Homo sapiens: one gene and its partners. The protein of the gene in region 2 interacts with the protein of the main gene of each other region in a pairwise test. Each region holds a gene or a part of one and is shown on either strand. Other genes may lie near its edges.

Region 1 (7,035 bases), on a different chromosome or scaffold from region 2:
CACTTCCCACTTGATCTAGGCTTTGGCTCTGGTTACCTTTTTGCTCTCGGAAAGTCTGAGGGGGTTATTTTCTTCGGGACTTTCAAGGGAAGAGTCGGCGTCATCCTCCTCCTCTTCACTGTCTTCTTCCTTCTCCTCTTCCTCTTTGTCCTCTTCATTTTCCTCCTGATCTTCTGTGGATTTAGCTTCCTCAGGATCTGCTGGCTCAGCAACTAGCTCATCCCCACACTGCTCCTTTGCTTCCTCTTTCACTTGCTTTTTTTCCTCCTCCATCTCCTCTTTCTTTTCCTCCTCTTTTGCTAGTCCATCTAATTTCCTCTGGCTGGCCTTGTAGTACAGCACTACCTCCAGACTCTGTGGGGTGGGAGTAGGGCAGGATGGCGGCTGCGTTACCTGTGAAGCTCCTAATCTCATGACAATGCTGTACTAGCTCCAGGAAACATGACTTCCAGCATGTCAGAGTGCAAGGGTGTGGCCCGGTGCTCTGGGACTGTGAGCCAATCCCCTGAGCATATGTAGAGGGCATCACACCTCACCTCTCAGGGCCACTATGTCTGTTGGCCATTAAGCCATTTCAAACAGCTACCACAACTAAAGAGTCTTGGGCTCTGCACCTAAATTGTTGCTTCCCACCCCTACAGTGACTCTTCTTTTACCCAATCCTCTTTCACTTATTAGTACATAACTACTTTGAACAAATTCCTCCCTCTTCATCTATTTGGTTCTTCTCTTGGGCATGTAACCCAGGAAGAACAGGAGCCCCAACAAATGGGGCTGGGCAAACTGAAGGAGTTGTCCAGCCTAGGGGCTGTGGTCCTTTGGGGCTGCACCTCCCGATGTGAGTTGTCTGTGTTCCACTCTCCCCATAACTTCACAGGAAAAGGGAGCACCCACTTTCCATTAAGATGGGAACCACTGTAGACACTTCAGAGATCCCAGAAGCTTCTCTACAAATCCCTTGCCTGGTTGAAAGGGTTGTGGAGGCAATGCTTCTTCCCAGGATCTCCTCCTCCTTTCTGCTTATCTGGCTACCAAGGTTACTACTCACCTTTCTGGTCTCAAGGTCGCTCTCAGAAGTATCCGAGCATGGCTTGGTCACCTTTTTCATTTTAACCCCATTGGCATTCTTGTTCATGTTCTTATTAGCATTCTTCCCCCGGGCTTCTTTGACAACAGAAGGCCTCTTCTCCCTGAGCTGGCGGAGCTCCTCCTGGCAGCACTGCAGCTGCCCCTCCAGCTGCTCCTGCACTACCAGAAGCCGCCCCTGCTCATCCATGCTAGCCTGGTATTGCAGCTGCAGCTCCCGCAGCTTGGTCTGCAGTTCTTTGATCTGTTGGTAGTGGAGGGCCAGTTACCCAGAGTTGGCTGGTTATGCAACCAGTTGGCTGACCACGCAACCAAACTCAGCCCTGCTTGGGGGTCACTGTCTCAGAAATCTCCCTGTTAAAGCCCATAGGAAGTAGACAATAAAGAAAATATTCAACGGTGGAAAATGAGCCTCTCAAATAGTTTTACAAATAGCTTCTCCTAACTTGAGGCACCTGATGATGTCCATCTAATAAGATGAAAAAAACGGCAGGGCGCAGCGGCTCACTTGCCATCCAGTGTAATCCCAGCACTTCAAGAGGCTGAGGTGGGCAGATCACTTGAGGTCAGGAGTTCGAGACCAGCCTGGCCAACATGGTGAAACCCCATGTCTACTAAAAATACAAACATTCGCTGGGCTTATTGGAGCGCGCCTGTAGTCCCAGAAACTTGGGAAGCTGAAACAGGAGAATCACTTGAACCCAGGAGGCGGAGGTTGCAGGAAGCTGAGATCGTGCCACTGCACTCCAGCCTGGTGACAGAGCAAGACTCTGTCTCAAAAAAAAAAAAGAAGGTCAAAACAATGATTTAAATGGTGTTTTCTACTGTGACTGGGGAATAACAATAGGGCTGCTACCAATTCTGAACCTCAGGGATTTATTATATAATTCTTTTTTTTGAGACAAGAGTTTCACTCTTGTTGCCCAGGCTGGAGTGCAATGGCATGATCTTGGCTCACCGCAACCTCCGCCTCCTGGATTCAAGCGGTTTTCCTGCCTCAGCCTCTTGAGTAGCTGGCATTACAGGCATGCGCCACCATGCCCAGCTAATTTTGTGTATTTTTAGTAGAGATGGGGTTTCTCCAAGTTGGCCAGGCTGGTCTCAAACTCCTGACCTCAAGTGATCCACCCGCCTCGGCCTCCCAAAGTGCTGAGATTACAGGGGTGAGCCACCGCACCTGGCCTAGAATTCTTTTTATGGGAACTCCTACTTCATCCAACCCATCTCTCTAACAGGAACAATTACTTAAAGAACTGTGTTGTACACTCCTGAAGTGTGTACTGGGCTCCTGCACCTCACCCTGGAAACAGAGGCAAGTCACATCCTGCTCCCTGATCTCGGGTTTTGTCTTCCTTGGCTGATGGCAGCACACAACCATCCCCTCAGTAGGTACCAATACTAGCCAATCTGGACCCATGTGTTCGCTGCTCTCTGAATCTCTCCCGTGTGTATACAAAGAGACCCCCACTGGACCGTGAACCCCTGGCCAGAGACAAGACTTCTGTCCCATTCCTAGGGGGTGCAGAGCACTCTTCTTGGCATTGTGAGCGATCCAAAAGGAGACATGTCCCTGTCCTTGAGCTGCTTGCAATCTAGTTGGTGCTCCTAGTTGGTGCACCGGGAGACAAGGCAAATGCACACAAAATGATGAAAGAAGATTGGCAAATGCAAAAATACAGTTCTACAGAAGTGGTCTAGAACACAAAGCAAAAGAGAACAGAAGTGGCAAAGGGAGAAAGAGAGAAATCATTCGATGAGAGAAGTCCTGATGACTAGTAAACCCCAGCTCCACGGGCACTTGGGAAATGTCATCAGGGATGGAGCAGACTGCCCAGCCTCTGAGGTGCATATTCTCCCTGCTTTGTCCCTCTCTTTAGCCTCTATGAAGTGGCCATGACCTCTATGGCTCCAGGGGCTGCCAGAGGAAACCCTGCCTCCCTGACAGTGGTTACCTCATTCTTGTCGTTCTGGGGGGCCATGGGCTTTTCAAGGCATTCCATGCACTCCTTGAACTCCCTTTCACAGGCATCCAGCTCTTCCTTCAGGTCTTTCTGCTTGGCCAGTAACTTTTCCATCTGCTCTTGCAGCTGGCTGTGTTCCTCCTGGCTTATCTGGTACATGGCCTGCACCGCCTGCAGCTTGATCAGCACTTTCACAACCATTTCCTCAAAGCGCTGCGGGGGGTGGGGGAGCAACAATAGCACCCTGAGGAGCACCTAAGCTCCGCCCTACTCTGCTGGGCCCTTCCCTGGATACCAAACAATGGCCACCAGGATCCAGAGATGCCCGCGGGGGATTACTATATTTACCCCCATAAAGAGCATCGTGGCTGTGGTGAGGAAACGGACTGAATCTTATGGGCCTCTGTCCAGATGGGGGATTCTCTCTATGAGAGGGCTGAGCGGGAGACCAGGCTGCCATGGGTAGAGGGCTTCGCTTACTTCCAATAGTTCCCCAGGTCAGTTCTGACCCCATTCCCACACTTCTTGCCCCTTCCCCTGGCGATGTATCTCTTAAAAAGACAAGAGTCCATCGTCCCCTGCCTGACCTGTCACCTGGCAACCATTACCTCCATGTCTTCAGGCTCAGCAGGTTCCTCGTCAGTGCAGCTGCTGACAAAACTCTTCTGGCAGGTGTCAGAGCTACTGGTGCTGCCGTAACTCTTCTTATAGGTAATGCTGCTGTTGCTGGTAGTGCAGTAACTCTTCCCATAGGCCTCACTGGCACTGGTGCTGCTGTCATAGCTCTTGAGAAAGCTCTTGCTGCTGGTCTGGGTGCTGGTGTAACTCTTGTAATAGCTCTCATTGTCATCCACAGTGGTATCATAAGTCTTGCGACAGTTCTCATTGCTGGGGACCATGCTACCATAGCTCTTCCCGTAGGACTCAAGGCTCATTTTTATAGAAGGGGACTGGACTTGAAGCAGCTGCATTTCTTCCAGGCAGAGCTGCAAGTCTGCCTGCAGCCTCTTCCGCTCCTCTAGGAGCCTCCCTTGCTCTTGCTGCAAGAGCTCCTGCTTCGCCTGACCGGCGTCATACATCACCTGCAGGGCCTGCATCTGCTCCATGAGCAGCTTGGATTGCTGGGGGCAGGGGTGGGGAGACAGTATCATTACTCTGACACTTCAGTCCTTCCAGCTGCACCTCTCCTGGTACAGATGTCTGAGAGCACACCTTAGAGAATGGCACACCTACATTTCCACCTCACCCCGGCCTATGTCTCTGACTTAGCCTATAGGTAACTGGCATGTATCAGTTTCTTGCTCATTTGGGAAAATCTCCCCAGGGCAGATACTCCATGATTTCCGGGCTCCCATTTCGGCTGGTTTCTGCACTTTGGTACATCCCTGTCTCCTTGGAGCAGTGCCGAGTGGGTTTCCAGAACACCCTGGCTCCCTACCACACCCTCTTCTCAGTCAGGTATACCTGTTATCCTGACCTTCAGGCTCAGTCCCCTCGCCCACCCCTAGTTCTAAAATCAGCCCCGGCCTTGAATGCGGCAATATGAAGAATTGGAATCAAAGTCTTACTATTAGTTCCTGTATCTCCTGCCCCAATTCTGAATCTGGCCTCTGGGCATGTTGGGCCTGGCTTCTTGGCTGCTGATGTCCAGGATGAGATCTGATCAGTTAAGGAAATATTTTATACCTGGTTCCCAGCTGTGTTACCCAGGCCTCCAGCCTGGACATCTGATGCCCCTGGAATATGATCCAGCCTCACAGTGTTGACTTCTGCTACTCCCTGGTTCTCCTTGTTCAGAATAAGATCTGAATGAATAGATTTGGCCTAAACCGAAACTGTCTACCTGCCCCTCCTTGCCCACGCTGAGACCTCAGAACAACTTTATCCCCCAACCCTGAAGAGAATTGTATGGTGATCTCCACCTGTGTCACCTCATCTGAATGACCTCTTGCTGGTACTTGAGAGGCATCAATTTTCTGGTCTAACCCCTGTGACCTTGCTCTGTTACTGCCACCAAAGTTCCAATGAAGATAGTGTGGTCAGTACTAAGAACCCCATATGCTAGGAATTCTTCTCTTGGAAATGAAAGGCCCCAAATTTGCCTCATAGAGAACACCAAAGGTGATAGATTTTGATAACTGAGAAGTGTACTTTTCCACTCAAGAAAAAGATGACATTTAGAGTCAGTCCAAAGGAATCCAAACAAACACCAAACTGATATTATACATCTTACTGGGAATGAGTCGAATGATCTGATGACAGACTTCTGGTCATCCCAGCTCTGCCCTGAGTGCTCATAGTGCTTCAACTGGGCACTGTGAATATCAGTGTGATAAAGGATAATGGCATCTAGGTGAGGTCCTCAGGCCGTATCTAAAAGCCACCTCTTAATGGAGCCTGTGAGTGGTCACAGCTGGTGAAAGGCAGGGCTTTTGCCTTATCCTTACCCCTGGCCAAACACGCCTTCCCAACTCTGACCCTTCGGCGGTGCCCACTCTCTCTGCCATGCTGTTGTGCTCAGGAGAACTGTCTCCCTACCTCTTGCTATGGTTACCTTGTTTCGATTACATTTGGAGGACTTAGCCAATTTGGAATCATCGGGATTCTCCAACACTTCCTGGAAATGAGACTCTTTGAAACGTCGCAGCTCTTCGTGGATCTCTAATTGTTCTTTTAATACACAGTCTTGGTTCTGTATCAGCTTCTTCTGTTCCTCCTGCATGCCTTGGTAGAGCAGCTGCAGCTCACACAGGTCTTCTAACTTGGTGAGTAGCTCCTGACTCTGAGGCGGAGTAGAAGGAAGGAGGCAAGGGATGGTGGTGGTCACACAGGAAGTCTGATGCCTCCTTGGTGCCTCATCCCCGTTGTGAACAATTCCCTGAAGAATCTCAGGGTTGACTTCACAGAGCCCATCTGGGGACGGGGGAGCCCTTCTATGGAGACCTGCTAAAAGTGGCAGTGGTCTCTTGTGTTGGGATATATTTTGTAGTTTACAAAGTGGCTTCAGGTGCATTTTCTCCAGATGGACTAAATACCTAAATATAAACTGCTGCACAGATTCCTGAGTATAAAAGGTATTTTAAGATTTAAAGCCCTTATAAGAAAAACTCTAATTGGCTCTATGGAGCTTTTTGGTTTGGGGAGAGTGGTGAGAAAGTAAGGAGTGGTTGGTAAGAGAAAAAGTTCAATCCCCACCCTTTTATTTTTCCCTAGTCACACAGGGAAGCTTCTCAGAGCAGCTTCCCCGCAGTTAGCAGCTGCCTGTGGCAGAGTTACCTTGAGTAAGAGGCCACTCTTTGGCAGTGGCAGTGTGAGCCTGTGCAGCTCTTCCTGCAGCTGGCCCTGCTCCTCCTGCATCCTCCTCTGATCCTCCAGGAGCTCACACTGCTCCATCTGCAGCTGCCCCATCTCCTTCTGGCTGGCCTTGTACTTTTCCTGCAATTCTGTCAGTCTGGACAGCAGTGTGTCACACTGTGGGTGGGGGCGGGTGTGGAGGGGGTGGTTACTCTGTAAGGTAAGCTTCTTGGGTGGCTAACAGAGCACTTCTGCGCTCTCCTGCCTCTTGTGATCCTCTCCCTGTGCAGTCACCTTGGACTGGTCACCCCAAGCCACAATGCATTCTGGCTGTTTAGATACCGATTGGGGATCCCCTGCAGGCTGCTCCTTCAGAGCAGGTTGCTCTAGACTGGTGGCTGGCCTTGCTCTAAACTTCCACCATTCCTTTCTGGGGGCAGTTTGATGGGGAATGCTATCGATGCCCCTTTCTCATTTCCCCCTTCCTCTTCTCCGGCCCTTTCCTTTATACACCATATTCCCACCCTGTTGGGAACTCTTAGCTCCTGTTATTCTCATTAACCCCAGTTGTTTTTTAATGCAACTACACTCCTTACAAATAAGGACTTAATTTCACCCTAATTTTTCCCATTTTTGCTTTCCTAATTCTCTCTTTAAATCTTTAGAAAGTATGCGCTATTGGTAAATTTGGGTT
Region 2 (3,630 bases):
GTCCTAGCTACTCAGGAGGCGGAGATGGGAAGATCCCTTGAGCCCAGGGGTCTGAGGGTGCAGTCAGCTATGATGGTGCTAGTGCACTACAGTCTGGGTGACAGTGTGAGACCTTATCTCTTAAACAATTAATAAGGGCCGGGCGCAGTGGCTCACGCCTGTAATCCCAACACTTTGGGAGGCCAAGGCAGCTGGATCATGAGGTCAGGAGATCGAGACCATCCTGGCTAACACGGTGAAACCCCATCTCTACTAAAAACACAAAAAATTAGCTAGGCGTGGTGGCAGGCACCTGTAGTCCCAGCTACTCGGGAGGCTGAGGCAGGAGAATGGCATGAACCCGGGAGGCAGAGCTTGCAGTGAGCCAAGATCGCACTACTGCACTCCAGCCTGGGCGACAGAGTGAGACTCCGTCTCAAAAAAAAAAATAATAATAATGAATAAGAAAAAAATAAAAATAAAAAGCCAATAATGCCTAATGTTTTCCCCCTTTTTTGAAAGCAGAAAATTTCCCCCAAATTCTCCAATACCTTTATTTGTTAGTTTTTGCTTTATTTTTGTAATCAAATAACAATACAAAAACACACAAATACCCCGCCAGCATCAGGTGCACCACAATCATGAAAGATAAAATAACCCCCATGCAATTAAATGACCATCAGCTACAGAACTTTGCAGCAGCTACAACTGACCCATTCTGGCTTCACATTCCTAATATGCATCTCTGCATATTATTCATAAAATACATTCTGAATCCAAAAATTAGATGAAATCATGGGCAACTCAGGAGTCCTAATCTTCCTACTCATCTACCTTTTGCACTAGCAGGAAAAAAATGGGAGGAAGGGAATAGGATATATCTAATAATTTCCAAAGCATCATTCCCATAGGAATGAGTAGGGAAGATGGGACCTCAGTTATCAGATCCATATACCAATTATGTCAAGAGGCAAAAGAAAACTGTCAGTACCAAAGCTAAGAAGTCTCAGTACTCCTTAATGACAAACTGTCCTTGGACACTGGCTCAGATTTAGTGAGTTAATTATTAGAAAAAGAACCCAGTTCTTGAGCTGACCAAGAATTACATAATGGGATAATTTAGGGAAAAGGCTCTTCATTGCAAATTTTAAGATAGAATTCAGGAATCCTGCCTTCTATTCTGGCTTTGGTCAAGACAGTGAGGTCATATCACTAGATAACTCAGTTGGCAGCACATGAATTAGAACACACAATCATTAAAATATCCAATGTCTAAACCCAGTGTCTTCAATACTCTATCCCAATTCTACTCTATATTACAATTCTTTTTGGAGAGCAAACCCTCCAGAACACACTTCTACAGTCTTTATAGGAAATATTTATGGGTCTGTCAAGAATGATGATCTTGAATGAAAGAACCTTCTATAATATCCAATACAGTAGCCGCTGGTCACACAGAGCTACTGAGCACTTAGAAAGTGGCTAGTGTGACTGAGGAACTGGATTTAAAATTTCAATTAATCTTAATACAAATAGCTACATACGGCTAGAGGCTATGGTACTGGACAGTATAGTTCTAGATGGTACGACAGTTAATTTTTAGTGACTAAAAATGCATTTGAAAAAAAAAAATCTTAAGCCCCCAACAAAATAGCCAGGAAATCACATTATTTGCTCAAAAATACCCTTTCTTTGGGTAAACCCCTGAGGCCAGTAATGATGTATCTCTACCCAATAAGGGAAGAGAAAATAAAGTAATTCAATAGCAATTCTAGCTTCGGTTCTCATGGTTCCTTTGCTTACTCTCAGGATTACTCTGTATGTGTTCTTTTGAAGCTATTACTATCTTACCTTAAATTTTTAAAAGTCCTCCTTTCTTCATCCTTGGTGGATGAATCTCTCACTGGACAGATCCAATAACCTGGTGATTGGGGTCTTCCCATCCTTTAAACTGGGAGGTTGACTTTTTCCAAATGTTTTGACAAACACATCAAAGAAACTTTATAGCACAACAATCACAGAATACCTAAATTGTCATGGTCCAACAAGGAAGAAAAAACCATCACCAACCAGGCTTTGGGACTCAGGAAGATGAATTTGAGACGGAAAATGAAGAGATGAAGGGCATTTCCCCTGAACAGTTTTTCCAAGTCCATTCATGAGGAAAATCCCCAACGTCGGGAGACTCAAAAGGCTTTTCTACGTGAATTTTCCGATGCTGACTGAGGTAGGCACTTCTGCTGAAGCATTTCTCACAGCTGGTACATTTGTAAGGTTTTTCCCCTATGTGGGTCCTCCGGTGCCTGATAAGGTTAAAGCTCTGACTGAAGCTTTCACCACAATCAGGACATTTATAAGGTTTCTCTCCTGTATGTGTCCTTTGGTGAATCACCAGGGTGGAACTCTGACTGAAAGTTTTCCAGCACTCAGAACATCTGTAAGGTTTTTCTCCTGTATGTGTTCTCTGATGTCTAATGAGATGGGAGCTAAGGCCAAAACTCTTCCCACATTCACAACATCTATATGGTTTCTCTCCTAACTGGATTCTGCATTCTTCTATCACATTGCAGTTCTGACCCAAACTTTCCTCATATTCAGAACTTTCATAGGATTTCTCTCCTGTGTGCATTTTCTGGTGTGTAATAAGGTTTGAACTACGACTAAAATTCTTCCCACATTCTGGACATTGATAAGGCTTTTCTCCTGTATGTATTCTCTGATGTTTTATTAGAGTAGAATTACAACCAAAGCTTTTTTCACACTCAAGACATTTGTAGGGCTTCTCACCTGTGTGTGTCCGCTGGTGGCGAATGAGGCTGGAACTCTGACTAAAACTCTTCCCACAATCAGGGCACTTATAAGGTTTTTCTCCAGTGTGAGTCCTCTGATGTTCTATTAGGACATAGCTGTGACTGAAGCCTTTTCCGCAGACAGAACATTCATATGGTTTTTCACCTGTATGTGATCTGTGATGCTGAATAAGGTGAGAGCTGCTGCTGAATCTCTTCCCACACTCGGGACATTTGTAGGGTTTCTCTCCCGTGTGAGTTCTCTCATGGATAATAAGATGGGAGGTATTGCTGAAGCTTTTCCCACATTCACCACACTGGTAGGGCTTCTCTCCTGTGTGCATTCTTAGATGCTGAATCAGGTGAGAACTGTTACAAAAACATTTTGCACACTCAGAGCATTTATAAGGCTTTTCTCCTGAGTGGGTCCTCTGGTGAGTACGCAAATGAGAACTATTACTGAAGCTTTTCCAACATTCGGAACATTTATAGGGTCTGTCTACAAAGGATGAATTCTGCTGGACACAGGCATTGGTATGTTCTCCTGAGTCCCATTCCTGGTGATTGGGTTTTTCCTCCTCTTTAGCTATAAAATTTCCCCAATTCTCTGACTTGCCATCACTCTCATAGGAATCATGACACCAAATCTCATCTTGAACCCATGTCAGTGGCATTTCTTTTGCATCCTCATGCTTATAATGTTGTGGTCTATGTCTTTTAGACCATTCTGAAGGTTTCTCTTTAAGTTTATCTGCCTTAGAATTATTGTGGTGAACAGTTTCCAAATTATTCATACTTGTATCTCCTGCAAGAATAAACAAATATTCTAACCATATTCCAAATCTCTGCCAGAGAAGTAAAT
Region 3 (7,035 bases), on a different chromosome or scaffold from region 2:
GGAGGATTTGAGCTACAGCAGCATCAAAGCCAGGCTTCAGGCTCTAGAATAGGCTTGAAGGGCAGGGGCTGCCTGTTCCCTGCCTGTCTCTTGCCCTGCCCAGCCCCCACTGCTCCACCAGGGCAGCTCAGCAACCTCCCCTGCCTTTCCCCCCAGTTCCCTTCTGGGGGTGGGGGGAATTCCCATCCAGGCCTTTTAGAAGGGCTGAAACATTCAATGTAAATAATTAATGCTAGATTTTTAAAATTAAATTTTAATACATTCTTATTAATTTTAGACAAACTCCCTGGCAGGTCATTCGCCGTGAGTGATTGAGGTTGGCAACCAGAGACAGCCTTTGGGTGGGAAAGGCTCCTGAGCAGTGGGGTCCAGGCGCAGCTGGGCCCCTTCAGCTGCGGGATCTCCAGCAAGCCTCTTCTCTGTTGGAGCTTTGCTCCCGCATAGGGGGTCCGGGGCTTCCATGGCAGAGCTGTGGTGAGGAGCCGTGGGAAGCGCTATGATGTGTAAGGGGCGGTGGACGTTATTGTTATGACTACCGTGGCCATTCTGCTGAGGGTGGCCTCCCAGGACCGGAGGGGGGCGGAGGGGGTTTTCCTCATTAGCCCCTGGAGAGCAGAGCTTGCTTCCTCTGCTGTCCCCTCTCTGCTTTGTCTGCTGTCCCCTCTCTGCTGGAGAACTTAGCCCAGAGCTAGTGAACGAGTGGGTGTCCGTGGATGGAGGAACACTTGGATTTCTTGGGTTTGGTTTGATCCTGGTTCAGGTCTGACCCTCTGAGTGGACGGCTCCTCCCACCCTGCGCTGGCTCAGCGCAGGCCAAGCCTGCTGGGTGCTGGGGGTGTCCTGGTGAGAACACAGGGCTCCTGCCCGGGAGCTCACAGCCAGGAGGGGAAAGGGCCAGGAAAGACAGGCTCCAGTGCCGTAGGATCCAGGCATGCACTGTCCGTGTTTATTGAGCGCCTGCTGTATGCTGGGACCTAGCATGAGAAGCGCTGTCATGGGGACCCGGAAAGGTGGGCCTGGGGAAGAGAGCGGTGTGGGGGTCGCGCTGGCCGGCGGCAAAGTCTTCCCGGCAAACTCCTTGTCTTGCAGGAGGAGGGTTTATGGAGGGGTCCAGGCTTGTGGTCTTGGACAACTTTTAGAGCGTCTGGGGAGGGGAACCGCCATCCGGGCGCCTTAGGGATCCCTTCCCCTGAAATTCCTTCCCCCACCCCAGCCGATCCGCAGCCCGCGGGTGCGGAAGGGCAGTGGAGCGCCTCGTCCAGCTGCCTCCCCCTTCCCCCCAGCTTTCAGGTGAGGAAACTGAGGCCGGGAGAGCGCCGGAAGGCCGGCCCGAGCACCCGGGAAGTTGGTGGCCGAGCCTGGCCGAGGCCCCGGGGCCGGGCCTTCTAGCTTGGCGCTGCGGCCGGGCTGCGCCCTCGCCCGGCGGGGCGGTGGGGGAGGCGGCGTGGGGCCCGGACCCGAGCGGAGCGCGCTCCCGGCGGACGCGGCGGCGGCGCCCGGCGCGAGGGGCCGGGATGGGCAGTCATCAGTCTTCCCAGGTCTGTCGCGTGGTCCCTGAGCTCGGACCCCTGTCCCCCTTGAGTGCCAGTCACGGCACAGAAAGACGGGCAAAGCCCCGGGGAGCGGCCTCTCCCGGGTGATAGAGAGCCCGCCCGGCGCCCCCAGCTCCACGCAGGAAGTGCGATCCCGCCCGGGCCGCTCGCGGTCCCCGTCGCTCGCCCGCGCCCACAAGGTTAACGGCGGCGGGTGGGTCCCCCTGCCCGGCGCGCGGAGGGGCTGCCCGGCTGAGCGGGGCTGGGCAGGGAGGGTCTCCAAGCCGCGCGCGGGCGGGTCTGCGCAAGCAAGGCAGGGAGCCCCGCCGGCGAGCCGGGCGCTCACGGGTTAATCCCTGGGGCCCGGGAGGGGCAAGCCAGGCCCAAAACCCCAGAATCTGAGGGCAGCGGGTCCCTGATTGAGGAGTCGAGGCTCCAAATGCCATCGCCCTCGGATTGTGTGAGTGTCAGGTTCTGCAATCCTGCACGGCCCCGAATTCCCCAACATTCTCCGACTCGGAGGTTCTGCGATTCCGGGGTTCGGCTTCCTCCGGGAGGGAGCGCGGGGCAGGAAGGGTTAACGGGCGGGGCGGGGGGAGCAGCGGGGCCGCGGCCGCCGGAGAGTTAACGGGGACAGGCCGAGTCCCCCTCCTCCGGGCGAGGCCGAGATCGCCCCTGGCCGGGCCATCCCGGGCCGGCCCCTTCTTCGCCCCGGGGGGCGTAACTCGGTGCGGGGAGCGCGGCGGCCCGGGCGGGCTCACCTGTTACTCGGCCGCGGCCCGGCGCGCCCACTGAGTCACGGGGGCCGCGGCCGGGACTGGAAGCTGGGGACGCGCGGCGCCGGGCTTCCCACGGACGGGGCCCCGCGGGGTTGCCCGGCCGTGCCCGCTGTGCCCGGCTCTGCCCGGCGCGGCCGCGGAGCGCACGCCTCCTGCCTGCTGACCCTCTCGTTTGGTTTCTCGCAGGCCTCTGCCGCAGACATGGAGAAACTCAGGTGAGTGGAGCGTCTCCCGTGCCGCGGCTCGCGGGGGCCGGGTCGGGGGTGAGGGCGCTGGGGAAGGCGGGGGAAGGGGGCTCCACCCGAGCGCATCCCCCAGGGCCCGCGGGCGGCCTCGGCGGGGCTGCGGGCCAGGTGCGTGTGTGTGGTGCGTGTGTGCGCGCCGCGAGGCGCTGGGGAGCCTCGCGCGGGGCTCCTCCGCCGGCCCGGGCCGCTGCGGCGGGGGCTGGGGCTAGCGCCACTGAGGGCCGGGCTGCCCCCTACCCGGGGCCGCCTGGTCCTGTGCGGTCCTCAGCGCCCCTCTGGCTCCCTGCCCTGGACTCTCGCTGGTCCCCGGGGACCCTCCGGGTTCCGTTCGTGCCGTTCCGCACTGCCCCGGCGCTCTCTCCCCCGACCCCACCCCACCCCCAACCACCACCCGCCCCAGCCCCCGGGCTGCCAGTTGCCTGGCTCTGAGCTTTTAAGTGTCCGCCTCTGGGGGGCGGGGGTGGGGGATGGAGTCCTCGCGGCTGGACCAGGCAGCCGCGTCTTGGAGCCATTTTGGGGGAATCCCGCGACAGCTTCTGGGGAGTGTCCCCCGCGGCCTCCCTCCCGGTGCCAAACTTTAAGCCTTGGTAGACTTCACGGGACCACCTGCGCGGCAGGCCTGGGATCAGCCAGTTTGAATATTTGCCACTTCCTCCACGACTTCCCCTGGCACCCTGACCCCTACTTTGGGAACACCCCTCCCGTGTTTTCCTTCCGGAGCCTGAGCCGAGGCGTTGTGTGGGCGGCAGGCCCAGCTCTGGCTGCTGGGTTTCAGCACTGTCTCCCCTGGCCCACAGGGTCTCCGTCCTCGCCACTCCCTCCCGAGGCCAGAATTGGCATCCTGGGGAGGAGGCCGGGTAGAGGAGCATCCCTCCCCCAAGGAGCAGAGCCCAGCCTGGGCCCAGGTCTAGGGCAGAGGGGCCCTGGGCTCTGCCAGCTGACCCTTAGTGCCGTGGGTGAGTGGCTTGGAAACACCCAGGTGGGAGCCTGGGGGCAGGTGGGCTCACACAGAGACCCAGGGTGGACTCTCAGAGCAGGGCCATCTCCTGGGCCATGGAGCTGATGTGCAGCCCCCACTGTGGGTCCCACAGGGACAGGACCAACATGTCTTGTGCTGGGAGGAGGGGTCCAGTCTCTGAGGTGGTTCAATCTCAGACCCCAAATACCTGATACCCATCAGCCAGGCCCACCTTGTCGTGGCCAAGGTCCAGGTGGGGGCGGTGAGGCCCAAAGAGCGACAGCCCTGGCTGTGGTCACACAGATGACCTCAGGCCCAAACTCAGGCTCTGGCCCAGGCCAGGGCCCTTCCCTGGTGCCCCACATTGGCTGTCATTTCACCACCTGGGTTGTACCGCCTGTGGGGGGGAGGAAACACTGCTTAACTCAGCTGAGACTTGAGGAAAAACTTAGCATTCATGGGGTGCCCTGAGGCCAGCCTGGGGGTTCCCTGCGGTGGTTCTCTTTCTCTTTCCCTCCTTCCCTGTGCCCGGCCAAGGCTCTCCGGCACCTATTCCTGTGTGCCAGGCACTGAGGACAGAGGCATGACCCCGCCCGGCTGGGTGCACAGGTAGGCAGGTGTGCCAGGTGGGCGGATCTGCTGCCTGAGCTGCTGATGGCGTCAGCGTTGCTGTCCCAGGCGGGCTGAGGCTTCCCTGGGCTAAGCCATAAAGGCTGGAGGCAGTGGCCAGGGCCTGGGCTCCTGGGCTGCATCGGGCCATGTGGCCTTTCTGGAGTTGCCAGGGGTGGCGTGGGGCAAGGACTCCTAGAACTGGGGAGGGGTCCTGCCCTCCTCTCCCTCTCACCCAATTAGTGTTCTCAGAGTTGCCTGAAGGGCTTTTCCAGAATCTTCCCTTCTGGCCAGTGTCGGGGCTGCCCCAGTGGGTTTCTGTCCTGCATTTGGTGCCTGGGATTCAGAACCAAAAGCCCAGGGGAGTGGAAGGGAAGTTGGTCAGCATGGCTTCCTGCACAGAAGGGCACAGGGTTTGGGGTCCCACAGACCCAGTCACTGACAAAGTCCTGGCCCTGGTTGGGCCTCAGTTTTCTCATCTGTAAAGTGGGTGTCCTAACCACAACCAGGTTGCAGGGATGTTGGGTGCCGTGAGCCCCTGTGGTGGAAGCATCTCTCCTGGGACCTGGCCCAGAGCAGGCCCAGGTAGAGGGTCTCTGGGGAACCTCAGACCACACGGTGGTCACAGTGAAGGGGTCCTGAAGTGTCCACAGGGATGACCCTATGGTCGGTCCTGCCTCCTGGCCCCTGGACTGTGGAGTCTGCACATCACAGGCTGGGTCTGTGGGTCTGGATTGAGCTCTGAGAGTGCTGGTCCTGGCCCCCTCCTCTCCCACACCCCCCAGGGCCTGGAGCCAGGACTGACTTATGGGACAGTCCTGTAAATATTTGCTGAAGAGCAAAAGGACCATGTCACCTGGTGGCACTGTGGCCCTCAATGGCTCCCTTTGGTGGGCAGGTGTACATTGAGGGGTCTCTCTTCCCTGGTCCCTCCCACTGGCTGCCCCCCCATGCTGTCGCCCTGCTTCCGAGTTCCCCACAAGCTGCCACCTTCATGCCCCTGCCTTTGCCCACGCAGTCCCTGCTGTAGAGAATGCCCTTCCCTGCCTTCTTGTCCACATGACAAACTCTGTGTCTTCCCTGTCGCCTTTTCCCTGGGGTTTTCATGACGCTCTTGCCCCTCCCTCCCAAGTGGACTCCAGCCCCCTCTGGGTACCAGCTCTGTGAAAAGACCCGGTTGGCCCTCCAGTGCCGGGGACAGAGGCCCACAACAGATCCTCCTAGGCCAGCGGACAGAATACAGAAGGGGTTTGCCCACAATGCTCTGGGGTCCCAGGTTGTGAACCCTGGCCTGGGGTATTGGGAAGAGCTTCCGGGAAGCAGGGACACTTGAGCCAAGGCATGAAGAATGGGTAGGAGTTTCCAAGGACAGACAGGCCACCCTCCAAGAGGTGCAAAGGCCTGGGGGCTGCCCAGAGCAGATGTGTTTAGGGAAGACAGGTAAGGGGTGGGGAGTGGAGGTCAGTGGGGCTCCCACTGACATCTGGGGTGTCTTCTGTCTTCCCCAGGGCCCCAGATGGGCACCCCAGAGAACAGAGCCGGGGTCTGGCCCCTGGTGTTCTGACAGCCACAGTGCCTGGCAGAGGCTGGCGCACAGTAGGGCTCCCACAGGCCGGGGGGCCACATGGTAGATATGCAGCCACACCATTTGATGGCCTGGCCACCTTGGCTCTTGTCCTTTGACCCTTGCTCAGCCACACTCAGCTATCTTGTCTTCGACTGCTTGGAAAAACTATTCTTGTGACTCTCAAATATTTATAGATATTACCAAGTCCCGGCTGGCTCTCCGTGTGCTCAGAGCCTCTGTGCCTCTAATCCCTCAAATTAATCCCCTCCTCTCCCTCCAAACAGGGTCCCTCCTGCCTGCCTCCTGCAGCGTGCTGCTGGGCAGCCCCTTTTTCTATTTGAGCTTCGGTTCCCTCCTCTGTCAAACAGAGAAGTGGGTCAGTCGCCTCTCATGGCTCCTGGGGTGCCCAGAGCTACTCCTGTTTGGTGTCCACGTTTTCCCCCCAAAATAGAATTTTTCAAAGTCGTGAACTGTGATAGGCCTGCAGAGACATTAATAAATATCCGCACAGTTCAGTGGTTAAGTTTAGAACGACCACCTGGCGACCACCACCTGTGTCAAGGAGTTCAACATGGCCAACCCCCGAGATCCCCCGAGACCCTTCCCCACAGACAGCCCCATCCTGCTCCCGGCCAGCCCCTAAGATCCCCCGAGACCCTTCCCCACAGACAGCCCCATCCTACTCCAAGCAGTCACCGGGACACCGACCTTGTGCTCAGTGGTTCCTTGCTGTCCTCGTGGTTCTGCCACCTGAGAGGGCATCCCCAGCAGAGATGGTTGTATGTTGCCTGCTTTGGGACCTCATACCTGGATTCCTTCAGCCTGTGTTTTGGGGGTGGCTTTTTTTCACCAAAACTATTCTGTTTGTGAGGGTCCCTTGTGGTGGTAGGTGGAGCTACCAGTTGCTGTTGTCATGGTGGCTTCCCTGAAATCCGTTTGTTCCCTGGCAGACTGCCGGGCACTGTGCAGCCTGGGCCACCTTAGGAAACTCCTGTGCGGGTGTCTGGGGATGTGGGCTGCGATTCTGGGTGTGCACCCTCAGTGGAACCTCCGGGGCACAGGGTGCGCATAGGGTCAGCTCTGGAAGATCGGAACAGACTCTTGAAACCGCTTCTCCCCATCACTGTCCCTCCAGCGTTGTTGGGGTGGGCTGCCCTGGTTTGCTGCCCGCTGGGTTTCCTCACCGGCGAAGGCCGTGCGCATTTTCTACCAAGGTGTTTTTCCCATTGATTTGTGGGAGCTCTTCACACTGTCAGTTACACATGCAGCAGCCACACCTCCTGGGGGACGCCGCGTCTCGCTGTTCACACGGTCCTTCTATGAACAAAAGTTCTTAATTTTAATT
Region 4 (7,035 bases), on a different chromosome or scaffold from region 2:
TGTAAAAAGGAAAAAGAAAGTCTTAAGTTTTGAAGTGAAATTACTTAAAAGACTTATGTTCTAAATTTCTAAAATTTTTCATAATTTCCACAGAAGCCTCCCCCATTTGCCTATGTCTTCTAATTAACCTTGCTTTCCTCTCATTAAATAAAATTCTTTTGTATTCATTTTTATTGGTTTTACATTGTTTAATTACTAGTGTTGTTCTGTATTTCAAATTCTAAAGTTTAGTGTTAACTGCAAATACAAATAAATAAAATAAAAAATAAATATTCAATTACGGGTTAAATTGGAGTTTGTTGGCTATTCTGAAAATATTCTAATTTTTAAACACAACTTGTCTAAAATCTTAATTTTTCCTTTAATTTCTAGAATTTATGAATTATGATAAGTAAGATATGATAGAGGTAAGTTCAAAACTGTATCTTTTTCTCACAAATATCAAAAGGTCTGAGAACAAAGTCATGAAGTTTGAATATATATAAGAATAAAGATATCTGAGTACATCGGCTTAGACTAGGTTTATTATTTTTGAACTGTAAACTCCAGTAACCCCCGGTTTCTGAGAACTACTGCATTTCTTACCTTTTTTCTGCTTTATCAGCTCCTGGTGTGCCAGATTTCTCTCATTTGTTTCATTCTCTAAGGCCTTCTTATACTGTGCTGCTTCTCTGGAAAGAATGTTCAGGTTATCTTCAGCTTGTGTTCTCTCCAGCTCTAAACGATGAATTTTTTCCTGAAGAGTTTTTAAGGCTAAAATAAGAGCTGTTGAAAAAAAATTTTGTTGATATTTTAAGTGAAAGTTTCTGAACACTTACAATCAAAGTAACATAAGAAAAATAAGCAGTATATTTTTGTTACTGAGCCAGAAAAATGTACAAGTAATGCATATTCTTCAAAAAATGAAAAATAATGACTAACACTTTGAAGAGGCGCACATTTTCTCTCTAATATATCTTGTAAAAACACTATATCTATTATTGTATTTAGTGGTTTCTAAGACTGAGAAAGGTAATAACCACAATTTTAATTTAATAAAATATTTACAAATGAAAGGACTTAAAGACAATGTACAGTCTGGGGAGCATAAGAGTATAAATATGAATAAGAACATTAAAATATAATTTCTACTAATTAACATGGCAATTTAGGTTTAAAGTTATAGGCTTTTTTTCTCAGTTCTTGAGGTATTCCGTTTTAGTCAAATCACACATATTTACTGTTTCTTTGTCCATGATGCAGTATTAAGAACCAGGATAATTATAACCTAATGGTTTACCTGATGTCAGACCTGAAAGATAATAGTATTCTATACTACTGTGACTTATATTCAACTATATTAATATCTTCATGCTTCAGATAAGTTCAGAGTTTTAACTGTCATATAGTTTATATCAAATTAGAAAGATGCTTGCTAGAGATTACCATTTTGTTTTTATAAATGAGATAAATAAATTATATTTATTCCTCTTTACATGATATCTGTAGCTGGCACATTGATTTGCATTATTATTTCTTATAGTTTATTCCACAAAACTAGTTTATTTATTAACAGCAACCATTATTATAGAAGATTTTAAAAGTAGGTGATATCAGCATCTCAGAAAAGAATTTGCACAGCTTAAAATATGCCTGGAGTAATAAAATGTTTTCCTAATTCAATTTTAAGATCCTCCTACATTTCTATTTTAAACGTTAAAATACTAGTATTTTGTAGTTACTCTGATATACTGGCTTCCTAAAATATTTTCAAGAATAATTTTGGATATATGTAATTTCTGAATCTAATTCTTGAATAAGATGCAATTCCATTTAATTCACTAACATTCTAATCATCTAGTTTAGTATTCCAAATCTGACCTTTTATTCTTCAAAGAGTATTTTCCTGTTTTCAAATGATGTTTTTATGATAACTCTGTGATATGTGTCCAGCTGGTTGTATTAATCTTCATTTTATGGCTGAAGAAGCCAAAATAAAAAATGTCAAGTAATTTGTCTAAGTTCATAGAAACTTTTAGCAACAGAATCAAAGTTAGGAGTTTTGTTAAGATTAAATATGCAATCATATTGTATTCCACATAAATATGAAAAGTTTTTTATAGCATGTTTTTACCATTCTTCAAATTTTATATCAGCATTACCTTGGCTATTTGGGCTATGAAGTATCTTAGGAGAGGTAACTTCTAAGTTTGCAGGATGGCAATTCTGAGATGGTTCATTCTGGGTGAATGAGGGAACAAATACTCTTTCTGGAGGTTTATGATAGCTTCCTACTATACTATGCATTAATTCAGAATCCATTATCTGTAGAGAATAAAGGAATGATATAGTATCATGCTTTCCTATTTTAAGGGTAAATGCATTATACAAAAATTCAGGTGAAACTTTAAAAACATAATCATATACTGTGGAGTTGTATCTTTATGAACTTAATTATAAATTCAACTCTAATAGGCTTGGCAATAAAAGAAAGAAAAGTTACTATTTCTTGTGTAAGCAGTACTGACAATTCTGCCTGATTTTCAATAATCATATACCCTGGAGTAAGCATCACATGAGTGATTTGAATTTACTGGTTTCTCAGTTACCCATAAATCCCATATACCTATCATAGTCTGAGCACTTCTCTATAAGCAGTGTGACTCTAGGATTTAAAGAGAAAGTACATATTCTAAAAGATAACTGAGCTTTTAAACACAAACCAACAATATACACTGATTCTCTAATACTGATTGTTGAATTCTAATGTATGGCTTCCTAAGGGATTTTCAAGGGTAATTTTGGATATATGAAATATCGGAATTTAACCTTTGAATAAGACACACCTCTGCTTAATGTATTAGCATTTTAATCATCTAGATTAGAAAGTTTCCAAATCTGAAGAATCTAGACTACTTAGTTTTGTTAGTCTGGTTTTTATTTTGTTGTTGTTTTTGTTTTGGTAAGAGAGCCCTTTTAACCATTTAAGCAGGTAATTTTTGGTCTAAAATTTCCAAATAATTTTATTTTCCTTTCTGCAATTTAAATATTTTAGAAATGTATTCTATTTTTTAATAGATTCCAGTCAATGTTAATTAAATTAATTCATAATCACATAAGGTGATAACTGCTTACAAAAAAATAACTCACTGGAAGAATTTTAAGCAAGAAAGCTTGCTTCAAAATGGAAATCCAAGAATTACACTATAACATTAGCCTATTTTGATTTTTGAGAGTTGTACATTTTCCATGATTTCACCACCTCCTCAATTCACAAGGCAAAGGCAGGCACTTCCCAGGATAGTATTTTCTGGAAGGGCAGAAGGCACACTTCACTTCCTAGAATTTTCTACTTTAGCCATTGCCATGATTGGCAATCTCCTAGAACATTCTGATTGGTCTAAATTAGAGGCTATAAAGCCTAAGGTTTGCTAAGATACTTGATGCTTTTTGTTCTTGCAAGGTAACCATATTTTGCTATTGTGATTAGTACCAGCTATCTCAGACACTGCCTGCTCCCCATGGGATACCGCATCTATCTAAGTTGTTGTTCCCTCAAAAAACAAGAGATCAACATTAGTCACAGCTGGCTCACTATAAAGTGGAGGTAAGGCCCTAAAGTACGTAAATCCTGAAGATGGTTGTACATCTTCAGAGAGAGGTAAGTTGTTAAAGCTATCCCAAGAATACTGGAGCTACTCAAGAAATCTGACTTAGTTTTCAGCTCCGGGTGGGTTTCTCCAATGACATAAAGAATGAAATTTTGCTATTTGTCACTACACACTGAAGTCCTTGGGAGGTCTCTGCTTCCTCTGACCTAAGTATAATATTATTTCACAAACCGGATTTTGTACCAGTTAAAAAACTGGTCCAAATTTGAGGTTTTTAATGTATATGAAATAATGACTAGTTAGAAGATTGCCAGTAAGTTAAAAAGTAGACTACAGTTTATTTAAATTAAATGTGTAGACACATATTAAAGTGGGCACAAGCAGAATAATCCACTGATAGGATAAAAACAAGATGAAGAAAAAGAAAGAAAACAGTAAAGAGATGAGAGGACAAGTTATGTTGTGACACAGAGCTCAGAGATTCTCATTGTAATGGGATCTCAGCTTAACCTTTATAATCTGGTCCTGTGTTGTAAACAAGTGCATAAGCCTACTGGAAGCTTATTTATATAAAGCACTGAAGCATCCTGGGAGAAAAACTCACTCTGAAAGAAGGTGAAGTAACTACAAAAGGCTTGATCCAAAATAAAAGCCTTAAATGACTAAGGAAAGGAGGAGTGATTCTGAGTAGACTATGATGGTGGTCATTCTAATTTATCTCTGACCTAGTGCCATGGACTCATATGTGGGTTCTAAAAAGAGAGAGAGTTTAAATAAAAACTGAGAAATGTTTCACCAATATCTCTATAAAATATCAAGGCATTAGCTTCCCTGCTTTGTGTAAGATGTTACATGACAATGGAGGGGGAGTCAGATTGCTAACACAGTTTTGGCCCCTTTCTGGTGCATCAGTTAGTAGTATTCAGTGAGAGAGAGAGAGAGAGAGAGAGAGAGAGAGAGAGAGAGAGAGAGAGAGAGAGAGAGAGCAAGAGAGACAGTGAACAAGAGTGAGAAAGCGAGAGAGCAACAGAGAAACAGAGAGAGCACAGATGGAAGGGATACATTCATGGGCACATATGAGAAATATTTCTAGGGAAAAATTTCTGAAAATACAGAGAAGTACCTAAATCACAATCTCTAGGATTCCGGTATTTCTGATACCAGACTTAGCTAGCTGTTGGTAACTGAAAAGACCTCAGGAATTCTTATGGAACATTTTATAGGTGTCTTCAAGTAAGGGCAAAAGGCTATAAAATGTGAACCTCATTTGTATCAAGCCTGAGAAACTCAAGTTGTACCTTTTTTTTTTTTCTTAAAATTTTTATTTATTTTTTCTTTATTTATTCTAACAACAAACAAACAAAAAATGGAATACATGTGCAGAACGTGCAGGTTTGTTACATAGGTATACATGTGCCATATTAGTTTGCTGCACCTATTGACTCGTCCTCTAAGTTCCCTCCCCTTACCACCCACAGGCCCTGGTGTATGTTGTTCCCCTCTCTGTGTCCAGGTGTTCTCAATGTTCAACTCCCACTTATGAGTGAGAACATGCAGTGTTTGGTTTTCTGTTCCTGTGTTAGGTTGCCAAGGATGATGGCTTCCAGCTCCATCCATGTCTCTGCCAAGGACATGATCTCATTCCTTTTTATGGCTGCATAGTATTCCATGGAATATATGTACCACATTTTCTTTATCTAGTCTATCATTGATGGGCATTTGGGTTGGTTTTCCTGAAACCATTCTTGACAGCTTGTGAACAACCAGGGAAATTACTCACTGTTTTTATGGTTTATAAAATTAAGATACCCCAATTGGCTGCAACTAAGAACCCATTGCATAAAAAAACTATCCCCCTAAAAAGAATGCTCTAGACACAAACACTTTACTGCAAAGCATTTTTACTTTTTATAGAGGAAAACACTTATTCCATAGGACTGCTAGGGAGACGACATTAGGGGGCAGTCAGAGATACTATAGAAGACTTTTGAAATAAAGGAATCTCTGTTTGCTGTAACTGCTACTTCTTCCAAGTTTGGATTTTTCCTTAGAGAAACTGAAGAAGGATCAACAGCTCAGTTTCTTTGATCTGTTTTTTTCTTTATGTATGCATCTATGCTAACTTACCTTAAGAGCAAACACAGTAAGGCTGGACTAACTCTTTTATTTTTTAATGTATAGTACTTTAGGAAGTACTATAACTTATTATATCTTATTATTATCTTATTATAACTGAATAAGATAATTTGTGGTGGTGGAACTTACTTATAGATATCCCATAATAATTATATAATGTATTATTTATAATATAAAATCACCAAAATGTTAAGATGTGACAATAAAAACTGGTCAATAGAAACTAGTAAATACACGAATGTAACATAAATACTTCAATGGGATTCAGCTATTCATTTGTTGATCATCCAATAAATGATGTTAGAAAAATTGGGGAAACACTTTGGGAGGGAGAGGTGGGCGGATCATGAGGTCAGGAGTTCGAGACCAACCTGGCCAACAGTGAAACCCTGTCACTACTAAAAATACAAAAAATTAGCCAGGCGTGGTGGTGGATGCCTGTAATCCTAGCTACTTGGGAGGCTGAGGCAGAAGAATCACTTGAACCTGGGAGGTGGAGGCTGCAGTGAGCCGAGATTGCGCCACTACACACTAGCACAGGCAACAATGTGAGACTGTGTCTCAAAAACAAAAGAAAAAAATGGGGAAAAAATCCATTTAAGGCTTCATCTTGCCCCATACATCAATACAAATTTCAGATAGCTACAGAGTCAAATAAAGAAAACGCAGCTGGGCGCGGTGGCTCATGTCTGTAATCCCAGCACTTTGGGAGGCCGAGGCGGGCGGATTACGAGGTCAGGAGATCGAGACCATCTTGGCCAACATGGTGAAACCTCATCTCTACTAAAAACACAAAAAATTAGCCGGGTGTGGTGGTGGGCGCCCGTAGTCCCAGCTACTCAGGAGGCTGAGGCAGGAGAATGGCGTCAACCCGGGAGGCGGAGCTTGCAGTGAGCCGAGATCGCACCGCTGCACTCCAGCCTGGGCAACAGAGCGAGAATCCATCTAAATAAATAAATAAATAAAAAACTCTAAAAATTATTTTAAGAAATCAGTGAATATTAAATAACCTTAGAATAGGTAAGATATTCTATGTTTAAAAGTAACAGAAAAATAAAGGAAAAGATACAAAAGCTCTGTTAAAATTAATACAACATATAAGGCCGGGCGCGGTGGCTCACCTCTAATCCTAGCACTTTGAGGGGCTGAGGCAGGCGGATCACGAGGTCAGGAGTTCGAGACCAGCCTGGCCAGCATGGTGAAACCCCGTCTCTCTTAAAAATACAAAAATTAGCCAGGCATGGTGGCGCACACCTGTAGACCCAGCTACTCGGGTGGCTGAGGCAGGAGAATCACTTGAACTCGGGAG

What was found.
Region 1: the proteins of ZNF572 (region 2) and CCDC136 interact in binary tests that used the Homo sapiens proteins (3 or more experiments, as listed by UniProt).
Region 3: the proteins of ZNF572 (region 2) and BEGAIN interact in binary tests that used the Homo sapiens proteins (3 or more experiments, as listed by UniProt).
Region 4: the proteins of ZNF572 (region 2) and CEP57L1 interact in binary tests that used the Homo sapiens proteins (3 or more experiments, as listed by UniProt).

Annotation. Positions count from the first base shown.
Region 1 is NC_000007.14:128,808,933-128,815,967, reverse strand, and holds part of CCDC136 (coiled-coil domain-containing protein 136), read right to left. Parts: intron 6,519-7,035; coding exon 6,324-6,518; intron 5,830-6,323; coding exon 5,602-5,829; intron 4,707-5,601; coding exon of another isoform or gene 4,616-4,706; intron 4,169-4,615; coding exon 3,656-4,168; intron 3,261-3,655; coding exon 3,039-3,260; intron 1,331-3,038; coding exon 1,049-1,330; intron 355-1,048; coding exon 37-354; intron 1-36. UniProt on the Homo sapiens protein: May play a role in acrosome formation in spermatogenesis and in fertilization.
Region 2 is NC_000008.11:124,976,291-124,979,920, reverse strand, and holds the end of ZNF572 (zinc finger protein 572), read right to left. Parts: intron 3,574-3,630; coding exon 2,063-3,573; 3' UTR 532-2,062; downstream 1-531. UniProt on the Homo sapiens protein: May be involved in transcriptional regulation.
Region 3 is NC_000014.9:100,563,402-100,570,436, reverse strand, and holds part of BEGAIN (brain-enriched guanylate kinase-associated protein), read left to right. Parts: intron 1-644; exon of another isoform or gene 645-1,290; intron 1,291-1,459; exon of another isoform or gene 1,460-1,514; coding exon of another isoform or gene 1,515-1,538; exon of another isoform or gene 1,539-1,746; intron 1,747-1,943; exon of another isoform or gene 1,944-1,971; coding exon of another isoform or gene 1,972-1,992; intron 1,993-2,135; exon of another isoform or gene 2,136-2,497; coding exon 2,498-2,526; intron 2,527-3,353; exon of another isoform or gene 3,354-3,512; intron 3,513-7,035. UniProt on the Homo sapiens protein: May sustain the structure of the postsynaptic density (PSD).
Region 4 is NC_000006.12:109,140,488-109,147,522, reverse strand, and holds part of CEP57L1 (centrosomal protein CEP57L1), read right to left. Parts: exon of another isoform or gene 6,848-7,035; intron 2,305-6,847; 5' UTR 2,302-2,304; coding exon 2,142-2,301; intron 766-2,141; coding exon 586-765; intron 1-585. UniProt on the Homo sapiens protein: Centrosomal protein which may be required for microtubule attachment to centrosomes.